Regions from separate parts of the Homo sapiens genome. Here region 1 is linked to region 2. A link means that fine-mapping ties the variant in region 2 to the expression of a gene that starts in the linked region. Tissue or cell type: whole blood. Region 2 holds a variant in brackets; the other region holds the start of a gene. All regions are shown on one strand. Distances are between the middles of the regions.

What was found. PIP is the estimated chance that this variant, and not a neighbour inherited with it, causes the effect.
Region 1: it holds the start of BMERB1, and the variant in region 2 is fine-mapped to the expression of BMERB1 in whole blood (TOPMed, PIP 0.99).

The regions. Positions count from the first base shown.
Region 1 is chr16:15,433,104-15,435,603 of GRCh38, forward strand. It overlaps BMERB1 (bMERB domain containing 1), which reads left to right and starts at 1,485. Exons shown (of 6, transcript NM_033201.3): 1 at 1,485-1,656. The coding sequence starts at 1,551. The region is part of intron 1 of MPV17L-BMERB1 (MPV17L-BMERB1 readthrough); the gene reads left to right. RefSeq lists an enhancer at 1,789-2,411.
Region 2 is chr16:15,519,287-15,522,042 of GRCh38, forward strand. All of the region lies in intron 2 of MPV17L-BMERB1 (MPV17L-BMERB1 readthrough), which reads left to right. All of the region lies in intron 2 of BMERB1 (bMERB domain containing 1), which reads left to right. It overlaps LOC105371102 (a long non-coding RNA gene), which reads right to left and starts at 1,725. Exons shown (of 3, transcript XR_933129.3): 1 at 1,640-1,725. The variant A/G (reference allele first, on the strand shown) is at 1,655.

The DNA of each region.
Region 1 (2,500 bases), 86 kb before region 2:
TCGAGACCAGCCTGGCCAACATGGTGAAACCACATCTCCATTAAAAATACAAAAAATTAGCTGGGCATGGTGGCACGCCTGTAGTCGCAGCTACTCAGGAGCTTGAACCCAGGAGGTGGAGGTTTCAGTGAGCCGAGACTATGCCACTGCACTCCAGCCTGGGTGACAGAGAGAAAAAAACAGTTGTACCAATTTATACTCCCACTAGCATTAGATAAAAGTTCAAATTATGCCAGGCATGGTGTCTCACATCTGTAACCCCAGCATTTTTGGACTCTGTCTCAAAAAAAAAATCCACATCTTTTACAACACATGATTGTTAGATTTTTTAGTTTTTGCCTATCGGATGATATATTCTTATTTACATTTTCATTTTCCTTATTACTAAGGGGGTTGAGCAGCTTCTCACATTAGGCCTTCCTCCTCTGCCCACATGACATGACTATTCATATTCTTTCCCTGTTTCCTACTGGGATATCATTTTCTTTTTTTCGTTTCTTTTCTTTTTTTGAGACGGAGTTTTCCTCTTGTTGCCCAGGCTGGAGTGCAATGGCATGATCTCGGATGACTGAAACCTCTGCCTCCCAGGTTCAAGCGATTCTCCTGCCTCAGCCTCCCGAGTAGCTGGAATTACAGGCCTGCGCCATCACAGCTGGCTAATTTTTGTATTTTCAGTAAAGATGGGGTTTCACCATGTTGGCCAGGCTAGTCTCAAACTCCTGGCCTCAAGTGATCCACCCACCTCGGCCTCCCAAAGTGCTGGGATTACAGGCATGAGCCATCGTGCCCAGGCACTGCCATGGTGTTTTTTGTTTGTTTGTTTGTTTGTTTTTAAAGATAAACCTCTGGGGTTTCTGGAAAGTAAAGCCCCATGCTCCAAACAGCTCTGCTATACCTGTGTGCAAAATATTTTCATCTCTCTCTCTCTCTCCCCAAAGTGCATGCAAACACATATGGAACTGACATAGGCATCCACTGTCGCACTTCAAATTAAACAGACGCACACGACAGATATTCTCACAGAAAAGCAGTCAGCCAAGCCCAGAACCCATAGATCTAGGTCCACACTCACGCCTCTGCATGCTCCCCAGAAAGACGGATGCATCGCCCGCAGGTAGAGACGGGCTCACCAATCCCACTCAAAACCCGCTGCCGGCTTACAGCTCGCAAGCCGCCCACAGTGCCAGCCCCATGCCAAGCATCACTAGGGGCTCTAGAATAGGCAGGGGCCTTGTTCTCACTTCCTTTGTGTTGCTTTTATTTTAGTTGTTTTGTTTGTTGTTTTTCTTAGAGTTATCACCTGCCCCTCTGTCTCCCTACCCAGCCCCCAAGCCTCCCCTCCAAGCCTCCACTGCGCATGTGCCGTGCATCCCTGCCCCTTCTGGGTACCCGTAGGCGCTCCCGGGCGCTGGCGGCGGCGGAGGAGAGGGAGCAGCGTCACGGGCGCCCGGCCCGTTAAAACGCTGCTGGCTGGAGCCACCTCCCTCCCTGCAGCCCGCAACGGGAATGGAGTAAAGGGAGACCCGTCGACCTGGCCACGGGGATCAGCGATGGAATTAAAGCAATCTTTGTCCACCCATCTGGAAGCCGAGAAGCCTCTGAGGCGCTATGGGGCGGTGGAGGAGACGGCTTGGAAAACGGAGAGACTGGGGAGAAGTGAGTACTGGGGCGGGGGGCGGGGGGCCGGGGACAGCTGGGGATCCATGCGCCTGCGCGGGTGGTCGCGGGAGCGCGAGGAACGCCAGCAGTGGACCCAGGGAAGCGCCCCCGCAGCGGGGCTGGCAGCTCAGGGGGATACGCAGCTCTGCGCAGCGACGCGCTCTCCCCGCGAACAAAAGGGGGGGACCCTCCGGGCTGAGCCTCACTGGGAGGGTTGGGAGATGGCCAGGCAGCTAAGGCAGGAGCCTGGGCTCGACTTAGGAGTCCCGGATCCGTCAGCTCGCAGCTGGTCCTGTGAAGTCGGGTCTCTCCCACAGCCCAGGGAGGAGGATCCTCTCTCCGCCTGGGATGCGCCAGGGCGCTGGAGACGCGGGACCGTCCTGGAAAGCGCCCACGTCCCTGGAGAGGGGGGAGTGTCTGCTGGTTTTCCGCTTGCTTTCCTACCCCCTGCGTGAGGTTTCGGAGCGCACCTGAAATTCCCAGCTTTTCCTCCCTCGCCTTCCTTGGGTCGGGGTGGGAGGCTTGGGGCGGCAAAAGGGTCAAAAGGCACACACCGTTCTCTTTTCTCTCTTGACTCAGTTAAAGTCTGCTTGGGCACAACTCTAGAAGGCAGTTTCGAAATAGACCGGCTGTATTTATTTACTGGTTCTCTCTGCGGTGTTTGGATGTCAACATTTCTAAGTAAACGAAGGATTTTGTTTTTCATTAATAGGATACAATAGTTGAAACTCCTGCCCTCAAAGTGTAGAGGCAGCGTCAGGGGCTCCAGGGTCACTGGAGGTCCCTGCAAACCCGGGGGCTCCCCAAAGCCGCTGCTCTCACATGGCTTGCCCACCAGGCT
Region 2 (2,756 bases):
TAATCACCTTAATGCCCATCAGCTGCTGCAGAGACCATGTGAGTCAGCCCCTATTTCATGGTTGAGAATGTGTCTCACTTCCAATGCTTCTCGCAGCATTAACTCTTTTATTTTTATTTCTTGTGACAGAGTCTCGCTCTGTCGCCCAGGCTGGAGTGCAGTGGTGCGATCTCGGCTCACTGCAACCTCCGTCTCCTGGGTTCAAGCGATTCTTGTGCCTCGGCCTTCCAAGTAGCTGAGACTACAGGTGCCCACCACCATGCCCAGCTAATTTTTGTATTTTTAGTAGAGACAAGGTTTCACCATGTTGGCCAGGCTGGTCTTGAACTCCTGGCCTCAAGTGATCTGCCCTCCTTGGCCTCCTTGGGATTACAGGTGTGAGCCACTGCACCCAGCCTGCATTGACTCTTTTAAGCATGAGTCCGGGGGGGACTGCCTGCCCCAGCCCCAAAGCTCTGGCACCCTCACATTTAGATTATTTCATGGGCTTCCTTTTTCTCAGCTGATTTAACTTGTCCTTTCCCCCAAGATCCACAGCCCCTGCCTGTTCTTCCTCTTTTCCTGCCACGACAGTGAGGAAGAAGAGGAGGGAGATTTCCCTACTCCCAGGGAATGGTGAGAACTCGGGAGATGTGGGATCAGAGGTCATCATCCTGGCTCTCTGACGTCCTTGGTCTGTGACCTTGGACACATGAGGGAGCACACAGAGTTGCTGTTTCCCGCGGGCACTGATATGCCACCCTGAGTGCTACGTCCCCTGCATGCATTCACCCCTTAATTTTAGCTTCTTGAGTCCTCGCAAGAACCCCAATAGAGTAAGTTCTATCTCTTTTATTTTATGAATGAGGAAATTGAGGTCGGAGAGGCAAAGTGACTTGTTCGAGGTCACCAGCTAGGATAAAGTAGTACCAGGATTTGAACCCAAGGTGTCTGTCTCGTGGGGGCAGAGCCCTTAACCTTAAGCTGTTCTGTTATCTTTATTCTCAATGCCAGGACCCCTTTTCTCTTTGCCTTACTCTTTTACAACGCAAGGACAAACCCCCGATTAGATGCCCCCAGTCCCACACTTGGTCTTGTCTTGTTCTGCAATGTTGAATTGTGTGTGGTGGAACTTGGACAGATTTTACTAAGTCAGGCTTTGGACTTTTCTGTACCATTGAAACTGACCCAATAGTCCCATCATAGATGTTCTTTTTTTTTTTTTTTTTTTTTGAGACAAGAGTCTCGATCTGCCACCCAGGCTGGAGTGCAGTGGGGCACGATCTGGACTCACTACAAGCTCCACCTCCCGGGTTCACGCCATTCTCCTGCCTCAGCCTCCCGAGTAGCTGGGACTACAGGCGCCCGCCACCACGCCTGGCTAACTTTTTTTTGTATTTTTTAGTAGAGACGGGGTTTCACCGTGTTAGCCAGGATGGTCTCGATCTCCTGACCTCGTGATCCTCCCGCCTTGGCCTCCCAAAGTGCTGGGATTACAGGCATGAGCCACTGCACCCGGCCCATAGATACTCTTTTGGATAAATACAGAAGTTGACCTTTCTGATCTTAAAGCTTGAAGCCCTCATTTGTCTTATCTGAGTTATTTCCTCAGGAAGGGACCCCCAGGCCTCTCAAAAAATATCAAAGAACTGAAACTCACCAGATTACCACATCC[A/G]GAGATGAGATACCAGACCCCTCATTCATCATGATTGCTTCCTTGCTCCTCCCGAGTTCCTGTTTTCTTCATGATTGCTTCCTTGCTCCTCCCGAGTTCCTGTTTTCTTATACATTGTTACATTTCTTCCCTGCTATGTAAACTCCTAGTTTTAGTTGGTCAGGGAGATGGATTTGAGACTGAGCTCCCATCTCCTTGGCTGCAGCACGCAATTAAAATCTTCCTTGGCAATACTCATCTTGTCAGTGATGGGCTTTCTATGCGGCGAGCAGCAGGACCTAGACCAAACCCCTGGTGTTTCAGTATCACCATTTCTCTGCACATAAACTGTTTATTTCAGAGACCAAAATGATGAGCTCCAATGCAGACAGTCAAAGTTTGTGAAGTCAGTCTGCTGGGAATGTGCTGTAGAAAAAGAACCCGGTTCCCGTAATAACTCTTAAGGCCCACAACAGTTGGCATTTACAGACCCCTTATTGTGGACCTAGGCTTGTGCTAAGCCCTTTACACACATGCTCACATAACCCACATCAAATGCTTACTAACAGAAAGATGCATCAGGAACCACCCCAACCCAGGACACCCACTTGCCCTGAATCAGGCCCAGGAGGTCAAGTTCACAGACCAGCCATAAGTGAGCTCCCAGCAGGCAGGTGTGAACTCTGAGTGTGCTCCTCACTCTGAATTTCCAGTGTGTGTTCCCTTGCTGACTTCCCTTTGCTTGACCCCTGGTTTCCAATGTGCAAAATGGCATTTAGAGATCTCTTTCTTGAGGCTTGGCAATTTTATCAACTTTACTGGAACAGGGCAGTAACACAAAACTGCCTCCGGAAAACAGGCAGCAAACATCTGGCAGATAATGCTTGAAACGCCTGTGTTTTCTCACTTCTTGACCCTATGTTCCACCCACCTCCTAGTACCTCCCACTGCTACCCCATCTCCCTACCCATCCTGCCCCCATCTTACTGCAGGCAAGAACTCTCAGAGGCTGTCAACAACCTCAGACTCATTTTCTCGCCTTCCTTCCAGCACTGAATCACATCATTAGTTTTTAATAATTCTTCTTGCAGCCCCTCTGGCTCGCTTCAGCTTTTCCACATCT